Homo sapiens: one gene and its partner. The protein of the gene in region 1 interacts with the protein of each later gene in a pairwise test. Each region holds a gene or a part of one and is shown on either strand. Other genes may lie near its edges.

Region 1 (7,315 bases):
AGCAGTGGTTTGTAGTTCTCCTTGAAGAGGTCCTTCACATCCCTTGTAAGTTGTATTCCTAGGTATTTTATTCTCTTTGTAGCAATTGTGAATGGGAGTTCACTCATGATTTGGCTCTCTGTTTGTCTGTTATTGGTGTATAGGAATGCTTGTGATTTTTGCACATTAATTTTGTATCTTGAGACTTTGCTGAACTTGCTTATCAGCTTGAGGAGATTTTGGGCTGAGATGATGGGGTTTTCTAAATATACAATCATGTCATCTGCAAACAGGGACAATTTGACTTCCTCTTTTCCTAATTGAATACCCTTTACTTCTTTCTCTTGCCTGACTGCCCTGGCCAGAACTTCCAACACTATGTTGAATAGGAGTGGTGAGAGAGGGCATCCCTGTCTTGTGCCAGTTTTCACAGGGAATGCTTCCAGTTTTTGCCCATTCAGTATGATATTGGCTGTGGGTTTGTCATAAATAGCTCTTATTATTTTGAGATACGTCCCATCAATACCTAGTTTATTGAGAGTTTTTAGCATGAAGGGTTGTTGAATTTTGTTGCAGGTACTTGAAAGGAAGAGGGGCTGGGACAGGAGCTTTATGCTGAACAGGTTGGCTAAACATACATATTCTGGCTAATTTTTTTGTGTATTTTTAGTAGAGATGGGGTTTCACCATGTTAGCCAGGATGGTCTCGATCTCCTGACCTCGTGATCTGCCTGCCTAGGCCTCCCAAAGTGCTGGGATTACAGGCGTGAGCCGCCGTTCTTTTTTTTTTTTTTTTTTTTTAAGAGACAGGGTCTCACTATGTTGTCCAGGCTGGTCTCGAACTCCTGCGCTCAAGCAGTCTGCCCCCCTCGGCCTCTGAAAGTGTTGGAATTACAGGCGTGAGCCACCGTGCCTGGCAGAAAATATAGTTTATTCTTTAGGTGTAGGCGTGTGTGACTTAACCCTTACCTGACACGGCCTTAGGTCCTGATTATAATTTGGTATCTTATTGCCATAAAGAGTGCATTCTGTTAGTCTATGATCTCTATTTTAACATTGATGCTGGTCAGATGTTGTGTCTGAACTGCAAAAGGGAGGGAGTATAACCAGGCATGTCTGACCCCCTGACCTGTCATGGCTGGAAACTCAGTTTTTAAGGTTTTTCTGGGGTCTCCTTGGCCAAGAGGGTCCATTCAATTAGTTAGGGGGCTTAGGATTTGTTTTTAGTTTACAGGGGAAATAAGCCTATTAGGGGTAGACAGATCTGCAAAGCATGAGTGTTGGCAGGAACTTAAGCAACAAAGAGATACGGTTAAAATGTCGCTTTCTCTTTCTCCGTAGAAAGCCAGAGGAATTTGTGTTTTCTCCAGAGAGGGTGGGACAGAGGAGAGAATGGTGGGGCAGGAGGGAGAGTTAGTGATTTTGGAGGAGGCTAGAGGGTGCAGGGCCAGTTAGAAAACCTCAGCTGGGGGTGTGGAAAGGACTTCTAAAAACTTCTGAGGGGCCCCCTCCCCCTCCCCCGCTCCCTCTCCCCACGGTCTCCCTCTCTTTCCACGGTCTCCCTCTCATGCGGAGCCGAAGCTGGACTGTACTGCTGCCATCTCGGCTCACTGCAACCTCCCTGCCTGATTCTCCTGCCTCAGCCTGCCGAGTGCCTGCGATTGCAGGCACGCGTCGCCACGCCTGACTGGTTTTGGTGGAGACGGGGTTTCGCTGTGTTGGCCGGGCCGGTCTCCAGCCCCTAACCGCGAGTGATCCGCCAGCCTCGGCCTCCCGAGGTGCCGGGATTGCAGACGGAGTCTCGTTCACTCAGTGCTCAATGGTGCCCAGGCTGGAGTGCAGTGGCGTGATCTCGGCTCACTACAACCTACACCTCCCAGCCGCCTGCCTTGGCCTCCCAAAGTGCCGAGATTGCAGCCTCTGCCTGGCCGCCACCCCGTATGGGAAGTGAGGAGTGTCTCTGCCTGGCCGCCCATCGTCTGGGATGTGAGGAGCCCCTCTGCCTGGCTGCCCAGTCTGGAAAGTGAGGAGCGTCTCCGCCCGGCCGCCATCCCATCTAGGAAGTGAGGAGCGCCTCTTCCCGGCCGCCATCACATCTAGGAAGTGAGGAGCGTCTCTGCCCGGCCGCCCATCGTCTGAGATGTGGGGAGCGCCTCTGCCCCGCCGCCCCATCTGGGATATGAGGAGCGCCTCTGCCCGGCAGCGACCCCGTCTGGGAGGTGAAGAGCGTCTCTGCCCGGCCGCCCCGTCTGAGAAGTGAGGAGACCCTCTGCCTGGCAACCACCCCGTCTGAGAAGTGAGGAGCCCCTCCGCCCGGCAGCTGCCCCGTCTGAGAAGTGAGGAGCCTCTCCGCCCGGCAGCCACCCCATCTGGGAAGTGAGGAGCGTCTCCGCCCGGCAGCCACCCCGTCCGGGAGGGAGGTGGGGGGTCAGCCCCCCGCCCGGCCAGCCGCCCCGTCCGGGAGGGAGGTAGGGGGGTCAGCCCCCCACCCGGCCAGCCGCCCCGTCTGGGAGGTGAGGGGCGCCTCTGCCCGGCCGCCCCTACTGGGAAGTGAGGAGCCCCTCTGCCCGGCCACCACCCCGTCTGGGAGGTGTGCCCAACAGCTCATTGAGAACGGGCCAGGATGACAATGGCGACTTTGTGGAATAGAAAGGCGGGAAAGGTGGGGAAAAGATTGAGAAATCGGATGGTTGCCGTGTCTGTGTAGAAAGAAGTAGACATGGGAGACTTCTCATTTTGTTCTGCACTAAGAAAAATTCTTCTGCCTTGGGAAAAAAAAAAAAAAAAAACTTCTGAGGGGTGAGTTTAAACTGTTTGCCATGTATCATATGACCTCCCCCAGGGCCCAGAGTACCCTAATGTCTTTGTACTCGTCAATGTTTTGTGTGGGAAGGGTGCGGGCAGTCCTTAGGGAGAGCTGAGTTTCCTCTCCAGACTTCTGAACTGTGGTACGCAACAGCCTGGCAAAAGCAGAAACCCAGAGGCAGAGATATTTAGGAGAATATAAATCCCCAGATATTTGCAAATATGTTAAGGGAGGGACTCTGACTTTCACCGTCCATTTTTACCTCAATCTCAAAGGGCAAGGAGGTTGACATCTAAGTTACAAATATAATGCACAAGCATTTCAAAAAGTAGGGGAAAAAAAAGAAAAAGAAAAAGAGAAGCAGAAAGAAGGGGGAAAAAATCACTCATCCCTGCCAGGCACGGTGGCTCACGCCTGTAATTCCAGCACTTTGGGAGGCTAAGGTGGGAGGATAACTTGAGTCCAGGAGTTCAAGACCAGCCTGGGCAACATGGCAAAACCCTGTCTCTACTAAAATTACAATAATTAGCTGGGCGTGTGGCGCATGCCTGTAATCCCAGCTACTTGGGAGGTTGAGGCAGGATAATCGCTTGAACCCGGGAGGCGGAGGTTGCAGCGGGCTGAGATTGCGCAACTGCACTCCAGCAGGGGCGACAGAGTGAAACTGTGTCTCAAAAAAAAAAAAAAAAAAAAAAATCACTCATCCAGATAGCTAGGTGTGGCCTAAGGAGCTTGCGGCCTACGGAAGGTGTGGCCGAAGGAGAGGGGAGGGGTCATCTTTAATGATGATGGAGGGGAGGCATTGGTCATATACCTGAGAGTCAAGCTTTGTTCATCGTCAGATGAAAGCCAACTTCTTCCACCAGATTGCCTCCCAGCTGCTAGGTAGTTTCCTGTGGTACATCTTAAGCGGTAGGTTGGGATAATAGGTCCCTTCCAGGTCTTAAAGATGTGGATTAATAAGAACAGAATTTTCTACAACAATAAGGAGGATGTCCCCTATTTTAGGTGAATAAGCGTATTGCATAAGCACATGGGAAGAAAGGTTAAGAACTCTAAGACCGTAAATTTCCAGTTGTAGAAGCCTCTTGAAGGCGGAAAGCCCTTTTTTGAAAATTATAGGCGATATGATCTCCTCCAGTGGACCTAGCACTGGGTTAAGAGTCTCTCCAGACTTGTCACTGCAAGTCACGTACCTTTTCTAGGACTAAGTTTCTTCACTGGAAGATGAGGAGGTTGCACTAGATGACCTAGAAATTCCCTTCCAGCTTTAAATTCCCTCTTGTGTCACTTGCTGGACTTGTTCTACTGGACCTGGCGCTCCCCTGCTCCTCCCTTAGCTGCTACGTCCGCATCCCGCACCAGAGGGCGCCACAGGCTGGCCCGGGGCAGCGTGCGGTGGGCGGAGAGGCAGAATTAGGGGAGTCTCCAGGAGGCGTGGTGATTGGCCGCCGCCGGGCGGAAGGGGGCGTGGGGAGGGAAAGGCCGAGCAGCGCGGTGACGTCTCGCTGGCGGGGGCGGGGCCGGGCCGCGGAGCGTGTGACGCTGCGGCCGCCGCGGACCTGGGGATTAATGGGAAAAGTTTTGGCAGGAGCGGGAGAATTCTGCGGAGCCTGCGGGACGGCGGCGGTGGCGCCGTAGGCAGCCGGGACAGGTCAGTCCGAGACGAGAGAAGCGGTCAGGCAAGTGGCGGAGGGAAGCGCCGGGCCTGGGCCGAGGCGGCCAGCGGGACTGGGGCGCAAGGCCCGGCGGCGGGGAACGGGGTGCGGGGAGCTGCCGGGGTCCGCGGACAGCGTCACGGCGGCTTCCTGATGCTCCGGCCCGCTCCGGTCAGCCGTCGTGCGTTGCCATGTAGGCGCCCCGCTGACCCTGCGCCCCCCCGCCCTTGGACCCCCATAGCTGCTTGAGTGAGTCCGAAATACGGGCCTCCTTCCACCCTACTCTTTGCCCCCTCTTGGGCCTGGTGGCTTCGTCTTCTCCCACTTGTGAGAACCCCGTCTCAGGCCCGGGGGCCTCTCCCATTCCCCTCCCCTGCCTCTGACCTCTTCCTTCACCCGTTTCTGGTGTTCCTGAATCCACTGCCCTATCTAGCGAGAGTCTTCTCTGGGATCTTTTCCTCTGTCCCCCTCGTTATCCTTGTCTCCTGCCTTCATCCTCCCATCCTTGCTCTCTCAGGCTTTACTCTCTCTCCCCATCCCTGTCCCCTTCTTATCTGTGGTCTGATCCCTCCTAGTATTATGGGTCCCCATCCTCTTCCCCAGGGTGTTCCTAGGCTTTTTCCAACTCCGTGCCTGCAGTCCCTGTCTCCCTAAGACTCTCACCTTGGTTCCCTGAGAGGCCCTGTTTTTGCTCCTTTTTCCGATTTCCTTCGTATCAATTCTGTCCCCTACATTCCTGTCGCCCACCTCCTTTTCTCTCCCTGTTCCTTTCCCCTGCTTCAGGGAGAAGCCTTAGCTCCACACTCTACTCTACTTTCACTTGACCTGCAGTTGACATAACCATGGGGTGGGGGTGGAGGTGTTCAGACCTTGATCGAATTAAGAGGCTGATTGACTAAAGGAAATAACAGATTGTGTGGGAGAATGTACGTGGGTGTTGCATCAGAGATGATGTCCAATTTGTAGGCCATTCTTCTTATCTCAGCTTTAATACTTCCCCTTTATGGGGCTGTTGACTTCCAGGAACCCTTGGGGGAGACGGCGCTGAGCTGGATGTGTGCCACGGGTAGCCGGAGGCTTTGTCCAATTCTTTTCCCCTTCCAGGAACCGGGGTTTTGTGTCTTTCCACTCTGGATGTGTGGAATACACTTATACCATGATACCCCAGCCTCTCTCTGCCCTCACTCCCACCCTCCACCCTGTGCTCCATCCGAAAGGACTAAGAGAATTCTCCAGAAGCTGTGCTCCAGAAAATACTTGTGGTCCTCAACCTTTTTTCTGTGTACTGGCTCCAGAACTTTTTTTTTTCCCGTTTGAGTTTTGAAATAGATTGCTGGCCTGATAGCCCTGGGGCTGGCGGGCATCTGTCCCCTTTTATTATTGGTGGCTTGAAACAGCTGCTGATTTTCTCTCATATCTCTTTGACAATCTTTGGCCAACTGAATGTGCCTCTGATGTTGGTCACTGAACATGTTCTCTTGGAGTCTCTTCTCCCTCTTTTTTCTTTGTTCTTTTCTGAATCTAGGGAATCCAAATTGTCCCTCTTTTTCCCTGGGAGCTTAATTTCCTCTGTATCCAGGAGGAACGGCAATCCCAGAGCTCTGTTCCCTTTGCCCAGGCATAGTATGAGGTATCAGATTGATAACTACCCTGGTGGGCTGTGGGGCTGCAGTAGTTAGACCTTGTCAGGAACTTGAGCAGACACATCTGCTTCCAGTCACATAGATCATCTTCTCTGGGGCTTGAGAGCCCACCACCTTCCATGTGTGTCTGGATGTTTAACCTTACCAAGCAGAAGATTCTCGTCATATCCTTCAGTTTGAGCTCCTTTATTTGGCGTTGGTTCTCTAAAGAAGTATTCAAGAAATAACATATCCTTTGTTTCTACCCAGTCTGATCTTGGAGGATTCTGAAAGCGTGACCCACTCTCATGTTTAGAAATGAAGGCTCATTGTTTCACCTGGCCCCAGGTTTCTAGGGGCTCCTCTTTTGATGATTGTGCTGTCTTTGAGCCAGATTGGACATGGGAGTTGGCAACCTTTAGGAGCTGCGGTGGAGAGCCAAAGGAACCAGCTTGACCAGACTTTAAAGTTTTGTAATCCTCTTGTACACTGTTTTCTGTGAAAGCAATAGGATTGTGGATGGCCTGTTGTTGAGCCAGTCCCTTCTCCACTGACCCCCAGACCCCCTTTGCAGCACTTGCAAAGATTTGGGTAGACTGGACCAGAGGGTTTTCCTTGTTCCTGTGAATAGCATCTCTCCAGGGTTTTAGTGGATCATTCTAAAGAGGTAGAGGTCAAGTGTTGGACAGATTTTTAGTCTAGTCTCTGGCTTTCAAGGACTCCTCCTTACTCTTTTGAGCAGTTTGTTACTTCTGGCCGTGCTTACCCCTTAGTAGTGCTCTCTGCTGTGGTGGCAGGTGAGAGATTTGAGAACAGGTCAAGGCCAGTCCTTGTGGAGCAGCTTGGGCACCAGCAGCCCTAGATGGATAGCTTCTTGCAGTTTGTCCACTCTCATTTTCTGAGAAGGTAGTCATGATTGTCAATTACCAAATTCCTTCCCCATTCAGTGATTTTTGCAGAGTCTGGGTCTGGATTTTCTTTCCTTCTTTCTTTTCTGACACAAGGTTTTGTTCTATTGCCCAGGCTGGAGTGCAGTGGTGCTATCATAGTGCACTGTAACCTCGAACTCCTGGGCTCAAGGGATCTTCCTGCTTCAGCCTCCAGAGTAGCGGGGACTACAGGTGCACACCACCACACTCAGCTAATTAAAAAACAATTTTTTTGTAAAGACAGGCTCTCACAATGTCTCGAACTCCTGGCCTCAAGCAGTCCTCCTCACCTTGGCCTCTCAGAGCACTGAGATTACACTG
Region 2 (7,035 bases), on another chromosome or scaffold:
GAAGAGGAGACTGCATACAACCCCCAAAGAAGTTGCCTTGTTCTCATGCAAATCCTACAACTACACTTCCCTCCCTCCCCTGCTGCTGATGTTCTAGATGTACCTCTTCTCTCTCCTCTGACAGTCTTGAACAATGCCTGCCCTTCCCCTGTCCCTGGTTCCCCAGACCTCCTGTGCAGTTCTTGGTGTGGGCAGGGCTTCCGGCCTTCTCTGGCTTCTCTGGGGCAGCTGCCCACACCTTCACCCCTCAAAGCTCTCTGCCATGTCATGCTGCATCCCTGAGTGCTCAAGGAACATAGAATTTCACTGAGGCTGTATTGCCGTTGGCTGATGAAACCACCCTTCTTGAAACGTTTATTTTAATAAATGCCTATAATTGGCCAGGTGCAGTGGCTCACACCTGTAATCTCAGCACTTTGGGAGGCCAAGACGGGCAGATCACCTGAGGTTGGGAGTTGGAGACCAGCCTGGCCAACATGGTGAAACCCCATCTCTACTGAAAATACAAAAGTTAGCCAGGCGTGATGGCACTTGCCTGTAATCTCAGCTACTCAGGAGGCTAAGGCAGGAGAGTCTCATGAACCCAGGAGGCAGAGGTTGCAGTGAGCCAGGATCATGCCACTGCACTCCAGCCTGGGTGACAGAGCAAAACTCCATCTCAAATAAATAAATTAATAAATGCCTATGATTATGTTTCTGTAGCATTTGGCTAACAGCTCCCAATCCAAGGAGTGAGAGTGGGCAGTTGCTCCGCTTCACTGTTCTCCAGCCACATTCCCTCCCTCAGTGATGCTCATTTGATAGAATGTGGAGGATTATCTTTGGGGGTGGAGGTGACTGTGCTAGAAAAGATTGCTTCACGAATTTTTATTTGTATAATGTGAGTGGGAGGGCTAAGCTCTCCTCCAACAAATACTCATGTATACAAGACATTTGGGAGGAAATCACCCAAAGGCCTGTAGAAAATCCACATGAATTCTCAGCAGAGAATGGCCCTTGAGGTGTATGGGTTTGCACATTCATGGCGGACAAGGCGGCACTTTGAAGGATTTTCCAGGCAACACTGGGAATTATGTCCTAAGAAATGGGCCAGTGTGAAAGTCTTTAGGAGGGTCTGATAAAAATGTAAGCTTAAGACTGATTGGCCCCAAAAGGAGTCCCTTTCATTTTTTTCTGCAGAGTTATTACATTTCTTTATAAACAACAATTAACTTGCCATAGGGAACAATGAACTTCTTTGTCCAATTTTAAACGTGAAAAACAGTGATGTCGGGTGATGATTCTGGTTTTCTTTACCAGTTACTACTATTGTTAAAAAGTACATTGCACCCAAGGTGGGAAGAAAGAGATGAAACATGTTCAACATTACACTACTTCCTTTTTACTTTGGTACGTGGCATGTCTGAACTTAGATGAAATGTCTTTCATCTCTTGTATATGCGTAGATAAATATGGCTACATGTACACCTATGATACGTTTATGTCCTCATACGTCTGCACTTAATGTAAAAATGAAACTTTACTGGTGTATAAGTACCCCACTAAAAGAAATCTACTAAGTGTCAATGTGTACTTGGAAAATCATGAGTTCATGGATTATTCTGTGATTCCATTATGTTGGTGTGGGGATAGATAGACCATGCTGTACTATAAGTAACTTCCAAAGAACACTAAATAAGTACATCAGTAGCTACTGCTTTCCTTAGTCAAGAGATCAGATTAATAAGTAATTAAGAGAACACACACACACACACAACACACATACATATTAATTGCTGTGGAAGAAAAGCCTTAAGAAATTGGGGTTCTAAAATGAATATTTGGGGAATGTTTATTTTGGATGATAAGGACCTTGAGGAATTTCCTTACCCTCTCTGAGCCTCAGTTTTCTATTGTGTAACTGGGATAATAACACCCCTTAGAGAGATTGGGAGAACTGAATGACATAATTCACATTCAGTACATAAAACATAGCCTGGCAAGTAGTAAATACTCGAAAAAAGTTAGTTTGTATTATTATTATTATCAGCTGAATAAATCACTCTCTTATGGAGCAATTCTAATCTCAAGGTTAAGTAGTTTCTGATGTAATATTTTAGGATCAGTTTTGTGACTTCATGTTAATATTATTATTTTACTCCTTTATGTATATAGAATACTTTATATTGCAGATTAATATACAACTTAGCATCTGAGTCAACAATCCTCTGAGACAAACAGATAACTGAGATTTTAGAAGATTTTCTTCATTTAAAGCTTGGGTTTAATTTATAAAGAAGCCCAACTATTTGTTATTCTATTTTGAGAACGTATTTTGTTTTCATCATGGCAATCAAAAAGAAATAGGATTCAAATTCTGAAAAAATAATTGGAGACTTTCTTCTGGATAGCACTTATTTAATAAAGTGAGGAATCCCAAAAGTCACATCCCATATTCCTATCCTAATATCCACAATGAAATCCCAGTTTTTCAATAGGTCTGCGTTGGATCTTTCATACACTCTTCTTAAAACAAAGCTGTCAACCCCACATCACAATGCTTCTATATATAATGACTTTACATTAAAAGAATAGAAGCCAGCTATTTTTAGAAAATGCAGGTGCCATGTAAGCCCCTTTCTGCAAGAATGATCTTAGCTCAGTTTCCTTGGAATAACTGTAGACTTGAAACTGAAAACTTTATTAATGCCATTGTCTCCTTGTATCAGCAGGTTCCAGAGAGATTCCTGGAAGTTGCTCAGATCACATTACGGGAGTTTTTCAATGCCATTATCGCAGGCAAAGATGTTGATCCTTCCTGGAAGAAGGCCATATACAAGGTCATCTGCAAGCTGGATAGTGAAGTCCCTGAGATTTTCAAATCCCCGAACTGCCTACAAGAGCTGCTTCATGAGTAGAAATTTCAACAACTCTTTTTGAATGTATGAAGAGTAGCAGTCCCCTTTGGATGTCCAAGTTATATGTGTCTAGATTTTGATTTCATATATATGTGTATGGGAGGCATGGATATGTTATGAAATCAGCTGGTAATTCCTCCTCATCACGTTTCTCTCATTTTCTTTTGTTTTCCATTGCAAGGGGATGGTTGTTTTCTTTCTGCCTTTAGTTTGCTTTTGCCCAAGGCCCTTAACATTTGGACACTTAAAATAGGGTTAATTTTCAGGGAAAAAGAATGTTGGCGTGTGTAAAGTCTCTATTAGCAATGAAGGGAATTTGTTAACGATGCATCCACTTGATTGATGACTTATTGCAAATGGCGGTTGGCTGAGGAAAACCCATGACACAGCACAACTCTACAGACAGTGATGTGTCTCTTGTTTCTACTGCTAAGAAGGTCTGAAAATTTAATGAAACCACTTCATACATTTAAGTATTTTGTTTGGTTTGAACTCAATCAGTAGCTTTTCCTTACATGTTTAAAAATAATTCCAATGACAGATGAGCAGCTCACTTTTCCAAAGTACCCCAAAAGGCCAAATTAAAAAAGAAAAATAATCACTCTCAAGCCTTGTCTAAGAAAAGAGGCAAACTCTGAAAGTCGTACCAGTTTCTTCTGGAGGCAAAGCAATTTTGCACAAAACCAGCTCTCTCAAGATGAGACTAGAAATTCATACCTGGTCTTGTAGCCACCTCTCTAAACTTGAAAATAGGTTCTTCTTCATAAGTGAGCTTACATCATTCTTCATAAAGAAAAATCCTATAACTTGTTATCATTTTTGCTTCAGATACTAAAAGGCACTAAGTTTCCAATTTACGCTGCTCAACTTTGTTTATATGCTTAAAAGGATTCTGTTTACTTAACAATTTTTTCCCCTAAAATACTATTTTCTGAATACTTCCTTCCAGTAAGGAATAAAGGAAAGCCCAACTTGGCCATAAAATTCTTGCCTACACTAGAAGTTTGTTGACAGCCATTAGCTGACTTGATCGTCATCTCCTAAGAGGAACACATATATTTTCACAAGCAATTCCACACTATCCTGATGGGTATGCAAAGTGGTGACAGTCTAACTCAGTGTTTCTTCATTTTAGGTATAACATTTTAAAGCAATTGATAATGCCTCTTCCAATTCAGAAGCTAGTATTGACCAAAATGTGAGAAGAGTGTATAGCATAGGAAAATTTGGGGTTAACCCAAAAGACACAATTCCAGCACACATAAGAAAGCTAGCTGCTATTTTATGCTTTCTTCCATGGTTCTCCTCTTTTTTCCCTTTTATTTTTCCCTGTTTTTCAATGATGTACAGTGTTCCCTACTTGCATTGAAAAAACTCGTATGGCATTCACACTTTTTTTCTTAGGTGGGTTTTTGTGTCCAGATGCAGTAAGAATTCATTGTTCATCCTAAAACTGTTTTCCAGACCCTTCCTTCCCCTTAGGTAATTTGATATACACCTCCTAAAATGACACAGTAACAAATCTGGTATTTAGAACATATAGAACATAAATGCCATTTTTTAATTCAACTTTAATAAGAATTACATTTGACTTTGGAGAATACAGGTCTTGACCCATGTGACTGACTAGCTGACCCGATCGCTGTAATTTAACGTCATTTATAAATTCTGCTGATGGACAGGAATGTATGAACTCAATTATTGTCAGCACAAAGCCTTAAAACCTGCTGACTTTAAATTAAATGGTGCAGTCCTATGATGCCCTGCACCATCCAGGGGACTAACAGGGCCTCGCAGTGTAGACAGAGGGTGCAGCCACACGGGCGGGGGCACCAGCCACCTCACTCTGCACCCGCGGCCTCACACATCTCCCAGCTCACACTCTACTAATGCACAGAGTCATTAGATCCAATTTGTTATTTTTCTCACTTGCTTTAAAAAAAAGCAGTTTGGATAATCATGACATTGGAATAAAGTGGGAAGGAAAAATTCCATCAGCACAAAATAGGGAAGTAATCCCAACTTGTAGTCACAGTTTTCTGACTGGCTTTGTTTTAAAAGAGGATGGCAGTCCTTGTTCGTGTCAGTGTGCCACTGGGTTTTTGCTGTTCCGTGTAATTCATATCAACTTTGTGTTGCCATTTGCAAGGTAAAAGGCAAAGCTGTAGTGTATTCACCTATGTAGACAGATTGCTAGATATCTTTTTGATCTGGGGCGAGTTCAATATTGATTCCAGACTTATTTGGATTTTTTTAGTATTATTTTCCCCTCCCTTTCTAATTTAAATAGACAAATTAAGCAAAAGTGTGTGTTCACAACCAAATGTTGATGCCCTTATCTACTGATAATATCCTCTCAATGTTCACTGAGGCATAGAAATTATTTCAGAGTAGAAATTGCAGCATGAGGATAAACTCACCTCTTTGTTCTGAAAATAGAACTTTATCACTATGCTTTCCGGTGGTTTTCCCTTTTACAATCGAAATCTTGTGCCTCCCAAGTGCATTGGAAAATGACAAAAGCCTGTCTCTCCAAATTCCTATTTAACAGTTTGATTTTTTTTTTTTAATCACCATCTTTCAAATCTTAGCTCAACTCTCACCAAGTGAAAATTGGCTACTTGGGAGAAAGTTAACTTTCTATGGTGGGATGGTGAAGGATGAGGGACAGTTTACATAGGAAAAGAAAAAAAAAAGTCTAAAGTCCATGTTGAAAAACCACACTACCACTTATTTTCTGCTAACCCTAAATTATTTTTGCGTATACGCTTGAGGTTATAGTCTGTGCCTAGACCTAAAATGCACCAGCGGGGGGGATTTTAAAAAATCCTTCAAAATACCAGTTTTTTCCCAACAAGTACAATTGTTCTTGTGCCTTCTGTGGCTTTCGATTTCATCTTTTTGACTTTATTTCCAATTACTACAGCTGCAATAAACACTAGATTTTTTTTCTGGCTGTTTGACATAACGTTGATAGCTATGCATATTTTGTGTCTTTTTAAAACAAAGCGGGAGAATACGTTTTTGAAGAAGAGAATTTTTAGAACAGTTTGATACCGCAAATTATTTTTTCCTCAATTGTTTGAGCAGCATTCGAGTTTTGAAAATTCTTGTAGAAGCCAATTTTTTGTAACTGTGGTGCAAATCTTGTGTTTTCTTAGCCTAATGAAAAGTAGTATAGAAGCAATATTTCATACCATGTGCTATATATGTGTGCGCAGATGTGTGAACATAAAATCACATACACACATATACACACATGTAAAAATATACATATATATATATGCGTGTGAAGTGGAAAGCTTACCTTTTCCTATCTAGATTTAAGAACCTATTTTAGACATTTGTTATGTTTTGTGAAAAGAATGTTCTATTTGCAACAAAACATTTAATTCTTACTGTATCTCTGGCTGTTTAATGAGGACGTTTCACATTAAATGGTAAAACACATGGAAGATGTTAGAATGTAGTAATTATTTAAGTAAACGTTCACCCACATATTCCTGAAGTTTGCTTTGTGCCTCCGAGTATTATTTAATTAAAGAAGTGTTTTATGTTTGCAGAATCTTTGTCACTGTACTAGGGATGTGGGTGAATATCATTTAAAAAAATTTAAAACAACAAAAAAAAAGCAAAACAGAAACACTAAAGCAAGAGGGGAACTTTTATAAAGCAATGTAAATATTTAACCTCATGGCTGTCATTATGTAAGACATGAGATTTTAATAAATAACTACATTCTCACGACATCTGTTGAATTTACTAGGAACACTACAGTGACTGTATAGACAGTTGAAAGCATTCTTGAAAATCCTGCTCTCTCCTTTTAAAAGTTAACAATCTCTTTTATCAGATGTCAAGGGCAAGGGTAATGCAGTTTCTGTAAATTTATGAAATTTCTTTTTCTATGTACATGAAGACATTTAGTAAGTAACACCCCCCCTTCCCATGCGCACATGTGCGCATACACACACACACACACACACACACACACACAAACACACACACTGTCATAAAGCTAATGATTTGGGGACTTTAAAAAATAGGATGTCCTCCAGGAACAATCATAAATTTATGAAAGAAAGAGTAGTTTACAGACTCCCCTGAAAGAAGCAGTGTATATGTGAAGACAGTGCAA

Evidence for each region.
Region 2: the proteins of PPARD (region 1) and PROX1 interact in a two-hybrid assay, tested with the Homo sapiens proteins (one study listed by BioGRID).

The regions. Positions count from the first base shown.
Region 1 is NC_000006.12:35,338,243-35,345,557, forward strand, and holds the start of PPARD (peroxisome proliferator-activated receptor delta), read left to right. Parts: upstream 1-4,315; 5' UTR 4,316-4,439; exon of another isoform or gene 4,440-4,467; intron 4,468-7,315. UniProt on the Homo sapiens protein: Ligand-activated transcription factor key mediator of energy metabolism in adipose tissues. Receptor that binds peroxisome proliferators such as hypolipidemic drugs and fatty acids.
Region 2 is NC_000001.11:214,032,938-214,039,972, forward strand, and holds part of PROX1 (prospero homeobox protein 1), read left to right. Parts: intron 1-2,708; coding exon of another isoform or gene 2,709-2,711; coding exon 2,712-2,897; 3' UTR 2,898-7,035. UniProt on the Homo sapiens protein: Transcription factor involved in developmental processes such as cell fate determination, gene transcriptional regulation and progenitor cell regulation in a number of organs.